Homo sapiens: one gene and its partners. The protein of the gene in region 2 purifies or fractionates together with the protein of the main gene of each other region. This does not show direct contact. Each region holds a gene or a part of one and is shown on either strand. Other genes may lie near its edges.

Region 1 (7,041 bases), on a different chromosome or scaffold from region 2:
AAAAATCCTTATCTCTTGACCATTGGACCACAGTTTTTTGAGTTGGAATAAAAAATTATCTCAATTTTCTTTCCTCTCTTAAAATGACATTATCTTATTTTCCCAAGATTCCTGTTCCCTGAGATTGGCTGTAGTATAGAACAACACCCCTAATTACAATTTTGTATTGTTCCCCCAAAAGCAGGGATATGAAAAACCTTGCTGTTCATTTGCATCACTAATCATAAGAAAACAGAAAAGATTAATAACAAAAGTATCCACTGAGACAGATACACAGGTGTGAGATATATTACAATAATACAAACTCATATCTAGCCCACAGTCCTTTGACAACAAGTGTTTTAATGATCAGATCCCAAGGATTTAAATATTTGCAATTTGAACTCAAGAATCAAATCAGACTTTTTAATTTAAATAAATGTAGTAGTGTTTGTCACTAACCTGTGTTCCTGAACTATGAAATATGAATATGTAGGCTAAGGAATAGTTTCTCTTAATAAATAAAAAATTAGCAATTACTATGGACAAAACAAAACAAAATGAAATAAATAAGTGTATGGGAGAAGGAAACATAATGTGGCAGAAATTATAAGGAACTAGAGTTCGGGAAAAAAGTGAGATTTCAGTTTTTCTTTTGTTTTTGGGACACAGTCTCCCTCTGTCGCCCAGGCTGGAGTGCAGTGGTGCGATGTCAGCTCACCACAACCTCCGCCTCCTGGGTTCAAGCAATTCTCCTGCCTCAGCCTCCTGAATAGCTGGGATTACAGGCGTGCGCCACGATGCCAGGCTAATTTACTATGTATTTTTAGTAGAGATGGGGTTTCACCATGTTGGCCAGGCTGGTCTCGAACTCCTGACCTTGTGATCTCGCTGCCTTGGCTTCCCAAAGTGGTGGGATTACAGGTGTGAGCCACCGCACCCAGCCAAGATTTCAGTCTTTCTACTGTAAATAAGAGATTTCTTACTTCTGAATGTTTCCCAGTTATAATTATTTTTTCTCATTTGCTTTTTATCAGTTATTGATTGAGGTGGCATCTTGTGCTACGTTGCCCAGGCTAGAGTGCCATGGCTATTAACAGGTATAATCGTTGAGCATTACAGCCTCAAACTCCTGGGCTCTAAAGATCCTCCCATCTCAGCCTCCTGAGTAGCTGGGACTTTAGGCATGTGCCATTGTGCCAGCCTGCTTTGCATTTTGATTGCTATTTCTGAAGTGTTTGTGCTCCCGGAAAAATGTAATTAAAGGTATAACTTACACTATGTAAGTGCATAGACAAAAATGGGAATGCTATTTATTAATGGGAGGGATTCTTTATTTTTTTCCCCCAAGTTCATTATTGTGTTTTGTTTGTTTTTGAGACAGAGTCTCACTCTGTTGCTCAGGCTAGAGTGCAGTGACGTGATCACGGCTAACTGCAGCCTTAATCTCGTGGGCTTAAGTGATTCTCCTCCCACAACTTTCTAAGTAGCTGGGACTACAGGCACACACCACCGTGCCCAGCTAGTTTTTTTTTTAATTTTTAGTAGAGACGAGGTCTCACTATATTGCACAGGCTGGTCTCAAACTCCTGAGCTCAAGCAGTCCTCTCACCTTGGCATCCCAAAGTATGGGAATTGCAGGCATCAGCCACCACATCCAGCCCTGAGTTGATTATTGTTCTAATGCTGATGTTCAATAAATTTCAGAAATTAGCAGAGTAGTAAAGAAGTGTAAAACTTTTGTCATTTGTTTATTTAAACTCTCTTTGGCCTTAAAAAAAGGGGGCAAAACCTTTAACTTTTAACTTAAAAGAGGGGGCTGTCTTACTTGTTTGCATGTACATTTTGTGTTCACATTCTGTGTCTACTACTTAATTGTAAAATAATTAATAATTACTACTTAATTATAAAATAATTCCAACCTAACACGCTCACATGATTGATAAGAGAATACTAAAAAAAGTACTCAAAATAAATACATCTGAAGTCATACATAAACATGAGATCCTATTAATACAAACCCTTTCAGCTTTTCTTCTAGGAGTTTTAATTCTTCAGCTCTAGATTTTGCTTCCTCTTCCAATTGCTTGACCAGCCTTTCAGCTTGTTCCTCCTTTTGCTGTAATTTATCAAGCTCATCCAGTGTTTGCTTTAATTCTTCCTCAAACAGATTCTTCTCTTTAACCATTTCCTCTTGAAAAGAACAGAGCTTCTGATGAAGACTCGAAGATAATTCCTATATCCAAACAGAAAACCACCAAAATAATTTGGAATGGCATTGTGAGGTTGTACTAGGAGACAAAAAAAAGTACAGATAAAGAAGGATGAAACCTAAATTCAACAGATTCAAGGAAACTTAAAACAATATAGAAATAGCATATTTGTTTTCATAGATTATTTCCTATACCTTGTTAACATTGTGGCAAATATCATCTTAGGCTTTTTTCTATGCAACGCACATGCAGAAACTTCTTAATCTAAAATTATATTTTATATATATATATCTGTTTTACAACTGGCTTTGATATTAACATTATTTTTCACATATTATGTAAAAAGTGTGTGGTGATTTCCATATTACATAAAATTATTTTTTAAGCTATACAATATACAAATACATCACCATTGTGAAATAATTCTAACATTACAAATGATGTTAATATTATCTTTGACGACTTCCCCCCCTAATTTTAGTTTTCCCATTGCAGAGATAGCTACTAGTTTGGAATATATATGCCTTCTGGTATTTTTCTTTACACTTATATATACATATACATTTGGGGAGGGATATAAATGATATATACTCTGTTGCTGAAATCTTTCCAGGTCAGTGTATATAGATCTACTCAATTCCTTTAGCTGTTGTAGGTTGTCCAACACTATAATATTTCACATCAGTGCATGTAAGTACCTGTTGGCTTAACTCTCACCAGTATTTTGTGTTATCAAATGTTTTAATTTGTGCCAATTTTGTAAGTGAAAAAAATATTATTTCTACTTCCTTGGTTACTACTAAGGTGGAGTATCTTTCTATATTTACAGGCCAGAACTTCTCCTTCTCTGTTTCCATCCTATGCCCATAATTTTTCAGTGGACTTTCTTTCTTCTCACTGATATGTAAAATGTTCTATAAATAATCTGGATTTTAAAAATTGCTTTGTTTCTTCTGTAATTAGACAGTCTTTTACAAGGTAAGTGTAAATGTTTATATAGCCTAAATAACACAAGAATGAGCCAGAAAATTTTTTAAAAATTCCCTATTTTGCTGTATCTGTTGTCATTTTCCCACATTATTCATAACCCTAGGGTGAACATGTAGTGAAAATACGTAGCTAAATCCTCAGCATATCCATGATTATGTCCTCAGGATAAGACTCTAAAGATAGAATTGGTAGATCAAAGGATATACACAATTTAAAGGTGTTCAGAGACATAGGGAAATGTATGACACAAAATGAACAGTTTAAAAAAATATGGTGGTAAATTACTTTCTCTTGTTGCAGAAGTGAATCAATTTGTAATTCTTTTTGTTGAAGCTTTTCACGTTCCTGTTGTTCAAGAATAAACTTCTGTTTTAAGTTTTGCATCTCTGCATTTAGATTTTCGTTGTGTTCTCTATTCCTGTTGACATGGTCTTCTAGAAAACGCAAAACATCAAGAATACTGGAATTAGATAAGAACATTAAGACTGAGAAACCTGGACTCCCATAATATTCCATTACACTGCTTTTAGCATGGTATTTCCAAAGAAGAAAACAAAACTGTGAACTTTGTATCATTACTCCATGTAATATATACTATGTGCTAAATAATAAAACCCACAAATCTTGTTCTGTGTTATCTACTGATTGTTACACAGCCACCTAGTGGAAAAGTCAAGAATTATATGACTGTATATATTTCAATCAAGACAGGTAATATGCTGTATTGAAATAAACAGAAAACAAACATTATAAGAGTAAAATATTCTAAAATGCAGTACAGGTTTTTGCTGTTGTATAGCTATATAGCTAATTATATTTAAAATGTTAGTATAGCTAATTATATTTAAAAGGTTGTTTTAGCATAGTAGTATTTTTCCTAAATGTTGTATGTAACACTTATCTAAACAAAGTAACTATAAAACACTGTAATACCTTTTTCTTTTTCAAGCAGCTGACATTTCACATTTAGATCTTCTACTTGTTTAGATAATATAACAATATTCTCCTCAAGAGACTGCTTAAGGCTTAAAATTTCATCATTCTTCTCTTTCAAATTTTCTTCTAACTGGGCAATATCTAGCTTGTATTTTTCCACTTGATCTGAAGCACAACTGCATTAAAACAAATTATCTTAAAAAGCACATCTATTTAGGCACAGGGAAAATAACAGAAAAATGATGAAAATGACTGAGTATTAAAAAAATAAGGTTCAATTTAAAGCTACTGCTCATATTACCTAATTTCTTCGATGTATTCCAAGAGTTTTTCTGTTTCAGATTTTTCATCAATCTTTTCTTTCTCTATTGAAACACTAAAACAAAAATTGCATATGTTAATACATTCTAGTTTCGTTATTTAATAATCTTACATAATGCTTATGTACCAGATACTCCTGTATCAGGCAGGCTGACTACAGAGCCCTAACTCTTAACTATTATTTTATGTAATTTCTCAAATTCACAATTTACATCAAAATAGAAGACTAAAATTTTTATTTAAGTGAGAAAGTTTTCTGAATATATACTGACAAAAAAACCTATGATGACAAGAACCATCATTACAGTATCCCAAGTGTTAGAAATAATATTCTTTTTGTGGTCTTCCTGGTTTCCCCACCCATCCAACATACTAAATAGCATTTTGTGTGCCCATAAAGCTTTTGTCCCAGACTACCTGGTCTTCAATTACTTATCTGTTTACCTCCACCAAACTGTCCAATGCAAGAAATGGACAAAAGACTTCAATAGACACCTTGCAAAAGGTGATATGCACATAAAATGGTCAATAAGCACATAAAAATAAGGTCAACATTCATGGTAACAAATTAAAATCACAAAGGAGATACCACTTCCTACCTAGTAGAAAGGCTAAAATCAAACAGACTGACAACATTAAATGTTGGTGAGAATCTGGAACAACTGAAACTATCATACATTGCCAGGGGGTGTATAAAAATGGCAAAAACACTTCTGAGTTTTAAAAAACATTATATATACACTACCCTATTACCCAAGAATTCTACTCCTAGAAATTTCTCTGAGAAATAAAAACGTGTCCATAAAAAAACATAAAACATGTTCACAGCAGTCTTTTTAATGGCAGACACTGGCAACAGCCCAAATAATGATCAAAAGGAGAAGAGTAAAGAGATGGAGGTATATTCATAAGGTGAACCACTACTCAGAAATAAAATAGGAAAAATTACAGTATACAGAACGGTTTGGATGAATCTTGAAAAATTACATCAAACAAAAGAAGCAACACACACACATGCTCTTTCTCTTTTGCATGTCCTAAAAAAAGGCAAAACTGGCCAGGTATAGTGGCCCATGTCTATAACTCCAGCACTCTGAAGGCCAGGGTGGTATCACTTGAGTCCAGGAGTATGAGACCAGCCTGAGTAACAAAGCAATGCCCCATCTCTAAAAAAAAAAATAAATAATAATAATAATAAATAAAAAAAGGCAAAGCTAATTTATGATGATGTAAGTGAGAAAGTAGTTATGGGGATGGGGACATGACATAGGCAGTAGCAGGGGGACAAGAAGGGGTATGAAGGAACTTTCTGAAGGGATGAAAATGTTCTCTATCTTGTTTGGTAGTGGTTACGTAGGTGTATACAATTGCTAAAGTCACCAAACTGAATACTTACTATCCACACATTTTATTATATGTATATTAAAGCTCAAAATCAAAGGCTAGGATTGTGCATAAATCACAATTTCCTATACCAGTGTTTCTCAATTTCAATCTAATGACCACTTTCATAAGATCATGAAATCTTTCCTCATCATTAATAATACAGAAGATGTACAAAAGTAATGCACTCATACAACTTTGTAGCACAACATGTTTGAGAATGATTAGGGCTCATTCTAGTTTAAAAAGAGAAATAGGGCAACTGGAGGGAGGCAATGAGATAAGTACTAACAGAAGGTTGAAGTCTCAGTAAACAATAATTTGTGAAGAGACTCAAATCAAGAATTGCTTCCACTTAACAATTTCTCTTCACATTCACTCACTTACAGTTTTCCCTCCAGTTGGGCTATTTTCCCTTGAGACTCTTCGAGACTCCTTTGGGTGACCTGCAGCTTCATCTCCATGCCTTCTTGCTTAGCCATCATACCCTACACAACAAAGATACCTGTTTTAGGAAATGAGAAAGTTGTACTGATCCCCAGATCCAGACACAGCAAACCTGCCAAGGGCAGCACTCACCCTCATCTTTGTTTCTCTTTTGTTTCTAAGTTTCATCAACTCCAAGCTTAGAATTCTCAAATTCTTCTGGTTACCATTTTCAGAAAACTAAATACAACAAACACGTAAAAAATTCAGAAATATTTTCTGCTAAGACATATTTAAAATACACAAATATTGATTTTTCTACCTATCACTGGGGTTATGTTTTTGACTTTAATATACTTTGGTAGAGAGAACAGTCTTTGACCTACACCATAATTACTGATTGATTTAATTTTTTTTTCTTTTCTTTTTAAGAGATCAAGTCTCGCTCCGCTGTCCAGGCTAGAGTGGAGTGGCATGATCATAGCTCGCTATAATCTCAAACTCCTGGGCTCAATCAATCCTCCTGCCTCATCTTCCTGAGTAGCTGGGATTACCGGTGTGCACCACCACCATGCCTAGCTAATTTTTCAATTTGTTTATAGAGATGGGGTCTTGATATGTTGCCCAGGCTGGTCTCAAACTCCTGGCCTCAAGCAATTCTCCAGCCCTCAGCCTTCCAAAATGCTGGAAATACAGGCATGAGCCACTGTACCAGTCTACTGTTCTTATCCCTCTTTTCCTTAATGTGACTTGCTGGTTTATTTTTATTTTATTTTTGTAAGACAGAGTCTCA
Region 2 (7,041 bases):
TTTTACTTTGATTAAAAAATAAATTATTTAAAAATACTAGTATAACTGAAAATGAAAGTTGACAATGAAATATTTGGAATTGGTGAGATAATGATAAATATTACAGATGAATGTACCTCTCTGAGTTGTTCCTATCTTTAAAGTGGTAAATGATAGTAGCTAAAATGTTTGAGATTTAAAAGAATTATCACCAAGCAAAACTGACAACACTATGCTACTGGTAGGAAACTGAATATATTCAGAAAGCCCCAAGACAGAACAGAGAGACAAAACAAGTAAAGATGTGCTAGAGCCAAACAACATAATTATTAAGGTTGTACAGATGGATAGATTTTGAATGTTATCCCTTAAAATGGAGACTACACCTAGTACCTGTGAAGCATTGACAAACATTATCCGTATATTTGCTCACAGAGGGAAGCTCAATATATTTAAAAAGGAAGAAATGGTAGAGACTTCATTTTCTGACCACAATACAGGTAGAGATTAGCAACATTTACAAATAAAGACCCTCCAAACAAAAACAGCACAGCAACAAAATACTACATATGCAACAACTTTCTCAGAATCAAATCTTGGGTCAAAGCAGAAATCAAAACCCCAAAGAGAAACTATCTAGAAAATAGTAATAGAAACATTACTGTGGTGGAAACTGTTTACTGCCTTTCTAAAGTCCATTCTCCTCTCTCTTTTTACTAACAGAACATTGATTTTGTTGCATGTTGATGACCAGCTTAAGTACCCTATTTTCCAGTCTCCCTTGCGGCTGGGGGTGGCCATATGATTAAGTTCTCACTAATAAGATATAAGGGATTATTGTTAGGTGGGGATTCCAGGAAAGCTATTTAAAAAGAAGGTTGAGTCACTTGGCCTAAGCTTTTGGGCTATGTGATGCTGGATCAGCTATCTTGTAATCATAATCATAAGCTATCTTTAATCACATGTTAAAGACAGATGAGTGGAAAGATAGAAGGGGTGCTCCTTATCCCAGGGTCTCTTTCAGTCCTAGACTTCCTATCTCTGGGGAAAAGTTCCTGTCTTAAGCTGCTATGTGGGGAGTCTATTAGTAGGAACTGACATAATTTTTAAGTGACATAGTTACAAACCACAATTTATGTGATTAAAGAATGAAAATAAACAAGTAAAGCGTCCAAGTCAAGGAGTCAGAAATAGAACAACAAAATAAAACAAAGGAAAGTGGAAGGAAATAATAAAAATCAAACTAGAACTCAGTAAAGTTGAAAATTAAAGAAAAAAATGCTTGATAAATCCAGGAGCTAGTTCTTTAGGGAAACAATTTAAAAAAATACATACACATATATATTCTACCAGTGTAATCAAGAAATAGAAGAAAACACAACATTAGATAATAAATGATTTATCCTACCCAAATTCTGCAAATAAATTTGAAAATTGGATGGAATAGATGATTTTCTTGGAAAATGTGCTAGTAGATTGACTCTAGAATAGAAAGAAAACTCAAAAAGTCTCTCAAAAGTGGAAAAAAAAAAAGACAACTGTTATTTGTGACCAGTTGCTACTGTTCTTCCTGGAGTCCCTTTGCCATTGCTGTTTTGCAAAGTGTTAGAAGTGAATTTCTGGTGAGGAACCTCGGAGTGTGAGGCAGGGTGAGCATCCTGCTTGGTGAGCTCTCTGCAGTCATCTGGCAAGGTTGGCCACACACCAGAAAGGCAACGGCAACTATTCTTGGCATCAGGACCCATCACAAAACACAGAGCCCTGAGTGTTCTTCATTTTTTAAATAATATTTTCCAGATCAATATGCTATTGAACTTTTTTGCTAAGAAGAAAAGATTGAAAATGATTTATAATCATTTAATTTCACTGTCAGTCTCACAAACAACTGATTCCTTATGGTAAAAGTGTTGGAAACATTATATTCAAATAGTAGTGTTAAAGATTTTGCAGCAAGATTGTGGGTAAAAAAGGCTGAAAGTGTTTTGAGAGGAAAATGAACTGCAGAGTAACAAAGAAAAATGGTGAGCGTCAGAATTCCTTAGCTCTTAATTATTTTCATGGAAAAGTACCTAGTTCTCAAATGCTGGTAACTGGAACATCCTATTGGTTAAAAATAAACAGCATAAAGTTTCAGGAAACCAACTAAACAGCAAAAAAAAAAAAAAAAAAAAAAAAAAAAAAGGCAACCAGAACAGCCCAAAACAGAATAACAAAGTCAGAATAATGAAGCTACGCCAAAAGTGTCAGGTCATTACACGGGTTGTCTGCCCTCAGGCCAGGGTTCAAACCCAGTGGTGACAAACTCAGTGGCCACGTGGGCTGAAGGGCATCCAGAAAGTCCTGCTGGGTCACCAGAGGGCTGCCCTTCAGCACTTGGTTCTGAGGTGTCTTTGCTGTTTAAAATGTCTTGTTTTCTTTGAACTTTGAAGTTTCCCCTTCCTAATTATTTCAGTCTTCATTTAAACAGATGTAATTCTAACCTAATGTCCTCTTTTTACCCCATCTCTCCCTGGTAGCTGGAACAGTGAACCATGGAGCTGTATTTCGGTGAATATCAACATGTGCAGCAGGAATATGGGGTCCATCTGAGACTCGCAAGTGATGATACCCAAAAATCAAGGAGTTCCCAGAACTCCAAGGCAGGCTCCTACGGTGTCAGTATTCGGGTCCAGGGAATTGATGGTCACCCCTATATTGTCCTGAATAACACAGAACGGTGCCTAGCAGGCACATCGTTTTCTGAAAATGGGCCACCCTTTCCACCTCCAGTGATAAATAACCTGCCTCTACATTCCAGCAATGGTTCTGTGCCAAAGGAGAACAGTGAAGAACTTCAGCTTCCAGAAAACCCATACGCCCAGCCTAGCCCAATAAGAAACCTGAAACAGCCCCTGCTCCATGAGGGCAAGAATGGAGTTCTAGATCGCAAAGACGGGTCTGTGAAGCCATCTCACCTGCTGAACTTTCAGAGGCATCCAGAGCTTTTGCAACCCTATGACCCTGAAAAGAATGAGTTGAATTTACAAAATCACCAGCCTTCTGAGAGTAATTGGCTAAAAACGTTGACAGAAGAAGGCATCAACAATAAGAAGCCTTGGACTTGCTTTCCCAAACCTAGCAATTCCCAGCCTACCAGTCCCTCCTTGGAAGACCCGGCCAAATCTGGTGTGACAGCTATTCGTTTATGCAGCTCCGTGGTCATAGAGGACCCCAAAAAGCAGACCTCAGTGTGTGTAAACGTTCAGAGCTGCACCAAGGAGAGGGTGGGAGAGGAGGCCCTTTTCACTAGCGGGAGGCCCCTGACTGCCCACAGCCCACATGCCCACCCTGAAACCAAGAAAACCAGGCCAGATGTTCTTCCCTTCCGGCGACAGGATTCAGCGGGACCCGTCCTGGATGGAGCTCGGTCCCGGAGGTCCTCCTCGTCATCCACAACTCCCACGTCAGCCAACTCTTTGTACAGGTTTTTACTGGATGATCAGGAATGTGCCATCCATGCCGACAACGTCAATCGTCATGAAAACAGAAGGTATATTCCCTTCCTGCCAGGAACTGGACGGGATATTGATACAGGATCAATTCCTGGTGTGGATCAGTTAATTGAAAAATTTGATCAAAAACCTGGGCTTCAGAGAAGAGGAAGGTCTGGGAAGCGAAACAGAATTAATACAGATGACAGGAAAAGATCCAGAAGCGTGGATAGCGCCTTTCCTTTTGGCCTCCAAGGGAACTCGGAGTACCTGATTGAATTCAGTAGGAACTTGGGCAAGTCAAGCGAACACCTCCTCCGGCCTTCCCAGGTGTGCCCGCAGCGGCCACTGTCTCAGGAGCGCCGTGGGAAACAGAGCGTGGGCCGCACCTTTGCAAAGCTGCAGGGAGCAGCGCACGGGGCTTCATGTGCCCACTCCAGGCCTCCCCAGCCGAACATAGATGGGAAAGTTCTGGAAACCGAAGGTAGTCAGGAAAGTACAGTGATCCGTGCGCCCTCCCTTGGTGCACAGAGTAAAAAGGAGGAGGAGGTGAAAACAGCCACCGCTACGCTGATGTTACAGAACCGGGCAACAGCAACTTCGCCTGATTCTGGTGCCAAGAAAATTTCCGTGAAGACATTTCCTTCGGCCTCAAATACTCAGGTAACACTAGTGCGATTCCTGTTTGGTTTTTTTTCTCTTCCTTCTAAATAATGTAATGATGTACTTATGCTGCAGGAGGCCATAGGAATTACACATCCTCAATCTTGTATCAGGAATCACACAGCTGATCTGTTTCAGGATCCAGTTGTGTCCTACTGACGATGTCCTACTGCCAATTGTATAGTTTTCTGGGTTCTTTGAAGTTCAGCTGGATTCCCATTGTGATCTCTCTGTAAAGTAACTTGGCAGACGCTACAGAGAGGCTCAATTGTTCTGTTTGTGTATGCATGAAATCTGAAAGTATGCAGAATTTGTTTCTACACAGAGGCTGAATAGTTAGGTTTGTGTAGGTATATTAATTTTCCTCATAAAATTGAGTGACTGGGTTAATTTCTAGCCTGAAAAATTAGGTTAATTTTCATTTAGGTTAATTGTCAAGTGAGAATCTAAGTGGCACATTTAGTGTTTTGATAGTAACAATAAAAAATAATGATATTGATAAAATGGTAAAAAAAAAAAAAAAGTAGCTAAGTGCTAGGCACTGTTTGTTATATATTACAGGATTGCACCAACCCTGTGCAGGTAGTACCTATTAACCTCAATTTACAGGTGAGAAAATTGAGGCGAGGAGAAGTTAAGTAACTTCCCCAAGATTATGAAGCTGGTAAATGTTGTAACTGGCTCTAAGAAGGATGCTCACTGGAGGAATTGTTTGGTGTTTGGAAGCCTCTGGGAACTTCATCCTCATGGTCTAACAACAGGCCTTATGTTCCAGGCCACACCGGATCTCTTAAAGGGCCAGCAAGAGCTCACTCAGCAAACCAATGAGGAGACAGCTAAGCAGATTCTCTACAATTACCTCAAAGAAGGGTTAGTGATTTTCCCTCTGAAAGAGCAAAGTATTGTTGTTTCTGGTGGGACTCTTAATTTCCTTTTCCGAGGCTTTAATGGTTACCTTCCTTTCTTGCCCTGTGCCAGCCGTTGGAGGGTTAAAACTCAATGGCTGGGGTTTTCGTGACGGCATTTGTCTTGTGTGGTATGGGGTGGGGGCTTTGGGAGGGGTGTGTAGGAAAGGACACCATACTTTAAAAATTAAAATGAATACATTTTTAAAGTGACCCTTTACTATTTCAAAAGCAAATTCAAAGATAGGAGGAGTTTCTACTCTTCAGGTTTGAATGGAGTCCGCCATCACCTTGAGTTCTTCCGTGCAATGTGGTAGTCCTTTAGAAGTTACAAATAAAAACACCTCCCCTCCCCAGAGTTAACATTGGCCAAGAGCCCCTGCTTCCATTATTTTTAAAGCATGTGTGAGTCATTTAAAAGCAGTGCTTTCCATGCTTATCTTGGTGGTTGAGGTGGAATAATCAGGGTTTCAGCCCTTACTTAGATACTAACTGTGCTGGAACTTGAGCAAGGAATTTGAGGTTTCTGTTTCAGTTCTCTCAACAGATGTGATTAAGAGGAAGGACAAAAAAAAAAAAAAAAGCTTTACAGCCTACATGACTGAAAACCAGCCACTTGGCAAATCCTCATTGGTATCAAAATACTGTATATTTTTGTATTGTGCCTTACAATTATTTGTCAGTTTTAGAGCTAACAACATAGTAAGGCTCAAAATATAAAACAGGGGATCTTTTGAAAGGGGGAAAAAAAAAGTAACCTGAAAGATTAATCTAGCTAAGAACTGGTTATTAGTATCTCCCTGTGGAAGACTTTACCATGTTAAGATTAAGGTAGAAGAAATCTTGACTTTTAAAATTCATTATTTTTTTTTTATTTTTTGGGACAGAGTCTCACTCTGTCATCCAGGCTGGAATGCGGTGGCATGATCTTGGCTCACTGCAACCCCCACCTCCCAGGTTCAAGAGATTCTCCTGCCTCAGCCACCTGAGTAGCTGGGATTATAGGTGTGCGCCACCATGTCTGGCTAATTTTTGTATTTTTAGTAGAGACACAGTTTCATCATATTGGCAAGGATAATCTCAAACTCCTGACCTCAAGTGATCCACCAGCATCTGCCTCCCAAAGTGCTGAGATGACAGACGTGAGCCACCGCACCTGGCCAAAATTCATTAAATTCTTTTATGTATGTATTTTTTGGCACATGATTTATTGAGACATTGGTAAGACAGACTTTAGTGGGAGGTGCCTGTTGAAGGAAGTTTATTTTAAATCTTTTTCTTCTAATTGCTGACGGTGTGGTAGAAGTTAATAAAACTTAGTATCTCCGTGTTACCTGTGAAAGCCCAGACAAAGGGCTGCCATGCTGATAATCTTGGCTTAGGGGTTTTATTTTTTTAAACATAGGTTAAACAAATTAAGATCATTGTAGATCATTCTTAGTGTAAGATTCAGATGTACAGCATGTTTGTGTGTGTGAGAGAGATATACACATACGCACTTCAAAGAAAAGGAGAATTCTTTTTGGAATGGACATGAGCATTTGAATCAAACAACAAATTACTAAATGTTCACTGGGTGTCTTCTCCAAGCTTACTGAGGATGTGTTTATGTGCCTCTCACATATTTGCAAGTGGGAACCCTGTCCCAAATTGAGTGGTAACACATCATTTATTTGAAAAAAAAAAAAAAAAAAAAAGACACCATCCATCCTACTCTCACACTGATTTTGTCTGAGGCTTTAATTAATTCACAGCTCCTGCAAATTATCTCCTTAAAGGACCTGTTGGGTGTGTGTCATGACATATAAATTGTTCTGAGACCAGTGGTTGTGTCCCTCATTGTTTTCTCTGCTGTCCCTTTTTCAGAAGCACTGATAATGACGATGCTACTAAAAGGAAAGTCAACTTGGTCTTTGAGAAAATCCAGACCTTAAAGTCTCGAGCAGCTGGGAGCGCCCAAGGAAATAACCAAGTAAATGGAAGTTTTGTATTTTGTAGAGTGCATTTAGCATGGAATGTGGTAA
Region 3 (7,041 bases), on a different chromosome or scaffold from region 2:
GGCTGGTCTCAAATTCCTGGGCTCAAGCGATCCTCCTGCCTTGTACTCCCAAAGCACTAGGATTCTAGGTGTGAGCCACCACACCCAGCAAGAAAGCAGACTTCTATTAACAGTTGGGCTAACGGTTTGTATACTCCCTGTTGATAGAGGCTGTTTGATGTAATCACCTATTTTCTGAATTTATTTGAGGCTCTGAGCTTGTCAAAAGGGCATGAGGAATCCAAGTAAGATTGTGTCCAGGCCAGACTCAGTGGCTCGCATCTGTAATCCCAGCACTTTGGGAGGCCGAGGCGGGCAGATCACAAGGTCAGGAGTTTGAGACCAGCCTGGCCAATATGGTGAAACCCCATCTCTACTAAAAATACAAAAATTAGGCGGGCGCAGTGGCAGGTACCTGTAGTCCCAGCTACTCAGGCGGCTAAGGCAGGAGAATTGCTTGAACCCAGGAGGTGGAGGTTGCAATGAGCTGAGATCGTGCCACTGCACTCCAGCCTGAGTGACAGAGCGAGACTCCGTCTCAAAAAAAAAAAAAAAAAAGATTGTGTCCAAGGCCGGGCGCAGTGGCTCACACCTGTAATCCCAGTACTTTGGGAGGCCAGGGCAGGTGAATCACCTGAGCTCAGGAGTCTGAAACCAGCCTGGCCAACACACTGAAACCCCATCTCTACTAAAAATATAAAAATTAGCCGGGCATGGTGGTGTGCGCCTGTAATCCCCACTACTCGGGAGGCTGAGGCGGGAGAATCACTTGAACCCAGAAGGCAGAGGTTGTAGTGAGCCGAGATCGCACCACTGCACTCCAGCCTGGGTGACAGAGTGAGACTTCCTCTCAAAAAAAAAAAAAAAAAAAAAAAAAAAAAGATTGTGTGCAAGGTCCCTTCCTTCCCTCAAGAGAACTTAGAGGCTGGTGTGTATCCCTGGGGACAAAAGAATGAGCAAAAACCATCACTTTCTAAGATATAACCAACAAGCTATATAGTTTTGGTTAAAACATGAAATCATTAGGCTAAACATGTAAGTGTCAACACAGACACCACCACTAACTTCTGGTGGAAGTTAGTGAGCCTCACCCATGTTGAGCCAATGACAGAGGTGGGCCTAATTCATGCAGAACCAGGAAATGCACAATTGTACCTAGATTCAAGCACAAAACTTACCGATAACTCTGCATTTGTTGGGACTCATATTCACATCCTTTCTCCCTCCTACTTTTTCAATCCTTTCCCTCATTCAGAGAAAACATGCTATTTCCCGACCCACTCATCCCTCTGGAAAGCAGATTCTCTGAAAGTTTGATCAAGGCAGAAAGGCGAAATGTCATACAAAGCTGGCCAGACGTGGTGGCTCATGCCTGTAATCTCAACACTTTGGGAAGCTGAGGCAGGCAGATGACTTGAGGTCAAGAGTTCAAGACAAGCTTGGCCAACATGGTAAAATCCTGTCTACACTAAAAGCACAAAAATTAGCTGGGTGTGGTGGCAGGCACCTATGATCCCAACTACTCGGGAGGCTAAGGCATGAGAATCGCTTGAACCCGGGAGCCAGAGGTTGCAGTGAACCACGATCACACCACTGCACTCCAGCCTGGGCAACAGAGCAAGACTCCATTTCAAAAACATATAAACAAAAAATAAATAAATGTCATATAAAGCTAATGATTTGTAGTTTTGCTTGTTTTTTCCAGACATGCATTCATTTTTCCATCTTCTGTGACAGCACAATATTCCCTTGGGAGAATACCCTACTCATTTCATGAGTTCAGAGGGATCTGACATCATCCTCCACACCTGGGAAGAGGCATATGCCTATTCACGACCTTAGTGATCAGCTCATGGGTGGGCCTAACCCACGATGAGCCAGTGACAGAGGTGGGCCTAATTCACGCAGAGCCAATGATAGGGTGAGCCTAACCCCCATGCTCAGCCAGTGACAGTCACGGATCTAACCCATGCTGAGCCAATGATTGGCTTAAGGATGGGCCTAACCCATACTAAGCCAGTGAGGGCCCAGGTCCAGACCTTTTGCATAGCTGTCAAAAATGAAACTCTCTTTCCACTAGGGTTGGTAAGGTAAGCCTGAAGCTGGAGGTAAGCCTGAAGCCGGAGGTAAGCCTGAAACTGCCGGTGGTCATCTTGCTATCACAAGGGAGAGCCTGCCTCAGAGTGAAGCCAAAACAGAGGAAAGCTGGGCCAAGGGATGGAGAGCCTGGGTCCTGACAATATCATTTGAACACCTAGATGCAGCCACACCTGATTTAAGGTTATGAGATAATCAATTCCTTGTCTTGGTTATACCAGTTGGGGTTAGATTTCTGCCACGCAGGAATCTTAATGAATGTATGGAATCAACGACCTTACTTGCTCAAAGTCAAAAGGGTAGAGTGGTGCCTGGCGCAATGGCTCATGCCTGTAATCCCAGCCCTTTGTGAGGCCGAGGCAGACAGATCACTTGAGGTCAGGAGTTTGAGACCAGCCTGGGCAACATGGTGAAACCCCGTGTCTACTAAAAAAACAAAAACAAAAATCAAACGGGCACGGCGGTGCGTGCCTGTAGTCCCAGCTACTCAGAAGGATGAAGCAGGAAAAATCACTTAAGCCTGAGAAGCGGAGGCTGCAGTGAGCCAAGATCACTGCATTCCAGCCTCCCAGCCTGGGCGACAGAACAAGACCCCATCTCAAAAAAATAAAAAGGGGGTAGAGTGTTAATAGCAGTCATTAACAAGGCCAGGAGCAGCATAAACCTAGGCCAAGGAGTCCCTGCTCAAGCCATAAGCTCTAATGAGCCCAGATCTCATGTAATATGTACTCATCAAACCAATTCTATAGCAACAATAGCCCAGGGCCAAGGCATCTATCAATGAGCACTGTGTGGCCATTAAGATATTGGTGGCTGGGTGCGTTGGCTCATGCCTGTAATCCCAACACTTTGGGAAGCCAAGGCGGGTGGTTCACCTGAGGTCAGGAGTTCAAGACCAGCCTGGCCAACATGGTGAAACTCCATTTCCACTAAAAATACAAGAAATTAGCCAGGTGTGGTGGCAGGCTCCTGTAACCCCAGCTACTCGGAAGACTGAGGCAGGAAAATCGCTTGAACCCAGGAGGCGGAGGTTGCAGTGAGCCAAGATCACGCCATTGCACTCCAACCTGGACGACAAGAGTGAAACTCTGCCTCAAAAAAAAAAAACAAAAAAAGACATTGGTGATACTATTGAGGGCAGTCTCAGTCCCATGGTATGGAAGGTTGTCAGCATACAATAAAGTGCGGAAGTGAGGAACCAGTAACAACAAAAGCAGAATGACTCCTCCTGAGGTTTGGAAAAAGATGTGCAAGATCCAATGTGATCAGGCCCCTGCATAGTTTTCTACACATTTCTTACCCTACCACCTCTCATTCACTTATGTCCCAGCCACACTGCCTTCTTTCTCTTCCTTGAACACCCAAGCCTGGCAGGGTGCTGTGGCTCATGCCTGTAATCCTGATACTTTGGGAGGCCACAGCGGGTAGATCACTTGAAGCCAGGAGTTCGAGACCAGCCTGGCCAACATGGTAAAACCCCATCTCTGCTAAAAATACAAAAATTAGCTGGGCATGGTGGCACATGCCTGTAATCCCATCTACTCAGGAGGCTGAAACAGAAGAAACTCTTGAACCCGGGAGGTGGAGGTTCCAGTGAGCAGAGATCCTGCCACTGCACTCCAGCCTGGGTGACAGAGCAAGACTCCATCTCAAAAAAAGAAAAGAGTAATAATAATAATAATAATAATAAAAGAAAAGAGCCTCTTAAAACACTGTTATCTTGGCCAGGAAGGTTTAAAAACTTAATCCTCAGGAAAGAAATGAATCTGAGATGCTTTAGGAGGTGCGTCTATTGTGGGGCAGGTTCTAATTACAACGGGCCAATGGGAGGGATCTGGTTTTGGATTTCAAGGACTGAGGAGAAAATAAGCAGAGAACTGGATTTGTATCACAGCCTGCAAAATCTTTCACTCCAACCAAGAGACAAAAACCACAGGAACAGCATTTCAACCAAAAACTCTTACATTTTAAAAGCAATCCTTAGGGAAGAGAGATGCTGGAAGCAAAGAAGGAAGAAGTAACAGCTGCACTTCACTTTATCATAAAACAGCAATCTTTTTTTTTCTTTTTCTTTATTATTATTATACTTTAAGTTTTAGGGTACATGTGCACAATGTGCAGGTTAGTTACATATGTATACATGTGCCATGCTGGTGTGCTGCACCCACTAACTCGTCATCTAGCATTAGGTATATCTCCCAATGCTATCCCTCCCCCCTCCCCCCACCCCACAACAGTCCCCAGAGTGTGATGTTCCCCTTCCTGTGTCCATGTGTTCTCGTTGTTCAATTCCCACCTATGAGTGAGAATATGCGGTGTTTGGTTTTTTGTTCTTGCAATAGTTTACTGAGAATGATGATTTCCAATTTCATCCATGTCCCTACAAAGGACATGAACTCATCATTTTTTATGGCTGCATAGTATTCCATGGTGTATATGTGCCACGTTTTCTTAATCCAGTCTATCATTGCTGGACATTTGGGTTGGTTCCAAGTCTTTGCTATTGTGAATAATGCCGCAATAAACATACGTGTGCATGTGTCTTTATAGAAGCATGATTTATAGTCCTTTGGGTATATACCCAGTAATGCGATGGCTGGGTCAAATGGTATTTCCAGTTCTAGATCCCTGAGGAATCACCACACTGACTTCTACAATGGTTGAACTAGTTTACAGTCCCACCAACAGTGTAAAAGTGTTCCTATTTCTCCACATCCTTAAAAGTATAAGATTTTTGCCTTTGCCATTCAAAAATGTCAGAGAGAGGCCGGGCACGATGGCTCACGCCTGTAATCCCAGCACTTTGGCAGACTGAGGTGGGCAGATTGCTTGAGCCCAGGAGTTTGAGACCAGCACAAGGTGAACCCCGTCTCTACTAAAAATACACAAATCAGCAGGGCGTCACGATGCACGCCTGTAGTCCCAGCACTTTGGGAGGCTGAGGTGGGTGGATTGCTTGAGCCCAGGGGTTCAAGACCAGCCTGGGCAACATGGTGAAACCCTGTCTCTACTAGAAACACAAAAATTAGCCAGGTGTGGTAGAGCGCACCTATAATTCCAGCTACTTGGGTGGCTGAGGCCCAAGAATTGCTTGAACCCAGAGGCAGAGGTTGCAGTGAGCAGAAATTGTACCACTGCACTCCAGCCTGGGCACAAGAGCAAGACTCTGTCTCAAAAAATAAATAAATAAACAACATGAAAACGTCAGAAAGTTCTATTGCAGTACTCTCTGTGGCAGAAAGCAGGCAACATGACTTGCAAGGGTTCTCTTATTTTATCAGCATTAAGTACTGAATTTGACCTTCTGTTTGCTGTGTGCTAGACATTTCAAAAATTGTTTGCAAACATTATCTTCTTTAAGCTGTGTGACTGTAAGAGATGGCTAAACAGGACAACCACTCTGTTTCTTGGAAGCAGAAACACCGTATGCCTTGGCCATCTCTAAATGTGCATGTGAGCAGCAGAGGCAAACTAGATCCAAGTTCAAGGGATCTTTGCATTCAAGTCCAAGGCTTCCCAGGGGTTGCAAACTGACTGACTGCAGATCAGATTCACTTGTTTCATTTGGTCCAGTTTTGTTTTTTTTTTTTTTGTTTTTTTTTTTTTTGAGTCGGAATCTCTTTCTCTGTTGCCCAGGCTGGAGTGCAGTGGTGTGATCTCAGCTCACTGCAACCTCTGCCTCGCAGCTTCAAGCGATTCTCCTACCTCAGCGTCCCTAGTACCTCGGATTACAGGTGCATGCCACCACGACTGGCTAATTTTTTGTATTTTTAGGAGAGACGGGGTTTCGCCACGTTGGCCAGGCTGGTCTCGATCTCCTGACCTCAGGTGATCTGCCCACCTAGGCCTCCCAAAGTGCTGGGATTACAGGTGTGAGCCATTGCACCCGGCCCTCACATAGTGTTTTAAAAGGCACTGTAATAGGCAAGTGTTAATGCCTGGTCTCAGTATATACAACTTTGCACCTGCTATCTTAAAAATGCACCCCACATGCATTTATTTCATCTGTGTGCCACTAACCTGCGTTCTTAATACGCCACCACACCATCATGCCCCAGCAGCTCTGTAGACAAATCTGATGGGATCATGCAAGGAACAATGACAAACTAGGACCCAGTGGTACAAAAAGTATCTATTTTGCACAACAGAGATCTATGCCTCCTTCAAAAATTTGTTTCCGGCCGGGTGTGGTGGCTCATGCCTGTAATCCCAGCACTTTGGGAGGGTGAGGCAGGCAGATCACCTGAGGTCAGCAGATAAGAGACCAGCCTGGGCAACATGGTGAAACCCCATCTCTACCAAAAACACAAAAAAATTAGCCAGGTGTGGTGATGCACACCTGTGGTCCCAGCTACTCAGGAGGCTGAGGTGGGAGGATCACTTGAGCATGGGAGGCGGTGGTTGCAGTGAGCCGAGATCGCCCCACAGCACTCCAGCCTGTGTGACAGAGCGAGAACCCGTCTCAAAAAAAAAAAATTGTTTCCACATGCTTTTTTTTTTTTTGCATGTTTTACATGATTAAAGCTAACAAAAAAGTCTGAAAATACACTCGAGACACACACCTCTGATTTTAAAACTCTGGAAAAAAGCAAAGCAATCTCTTTCAGCTTTCCTCTGAGAGAAGAAACCCAGCACTGCTAGTCAGGAGCAATAAACATACAGAAACCATCGATAATTACTCAACACCCTTCTCCATCCCCACTCCATATCCTTCCCAATCAAAACAAACAGAAGAGCAGGAGGGAAGAGAAAGAAGCTGCCAAATGTCCACACATGCTCCGACAGCCAGGACGCAGGCTTTGCATTTTGCAGGAGTGACATCACTGGGGCAACATCAGTCAAGAGTCAGCAAGCCTGGCTTCTGTCTTTGTGCTTTCCAAGTTTACAATGATCAACCTACAAAAATACTTAGGCAGGCAAGGACCCATGTTCAAAGATGCACACCATCATTCACGAATGTGGAAA

The links. Proteins that work in one complex are often made in the same cells at the same time.
Region 1: the proteins of CGNL1 (region 2) and HMMR purify together in Homo sapiens (affinity purification with mass spectrometry; 2 studies listed by BioGRID and IntAct, with this or other methods). This does not show direct contact.
Region 3: the proteins of CGNL1 (region 2) and NDE1 purify together in Homo sapiens (affinity purification with mass spectrometry; 2 studies listed by BioGRID and IntAct, with this or other methods). This does not show direct contact.

Annotation. Positions count from the first base shown.
Region 1 is NC_000005.10:163,470,632-163,477,672, reverse strand, and holds part of HMMR (hyaluronan mediated motility receptor), read right to left. Parts: intron 6,489-7,041; coding exon 6,402-6,488; intron 6,311-6,401; coding exon 6,210-6,310; intron 4,495-6,209; coding exon 4,420-4,494; intron 4,295-4,419; coding exon 4,116-4,294; intron 3,617-4,115; coding exon 3,468-3,616; intron 2,216-3,467; coding exon 2,001-2,215; intron 1-2,000. UniProt on the Homo sapiens protein: Receptor for hyaluronic acid (HA). Involved in cell motility. When hyaluronan binds to HMMR, the phosphorylation of a number of proteins, including PTK2/FAK1 occurs.
Region 2 is NC_000015.10:57,435,490-57,442,530, forward strand, and holds part of CGNL1 (cingulin-like protein 1), read left to right. Parts: intron 1-2,495; 5' UTR 2,496-2,510; coding exon 2,511-4,112; intron 4,113-4,887; coding exon 4,888-4,982; intron 4,983-6,883; coding exon 6,884-6,989; intron 6,990-7,041. UniProt on the Homo sapiens protein: May be involved in anchoring the apical junctional complex, especially tight junctions, to actin-based cytoskeletons.
Region 3 is NC_000016.10:15,653,245-15,660,285, reverse strand, and holds part of NDE1 (nuclear distribution protein nudE homolog 1), read right to left. Parts: intron 1-7,041. UniProt on the Homo sapiens protein: Required for centrosome duplication and formation and function of the mitotic spindle. Essential for the development of the cerebral cortex.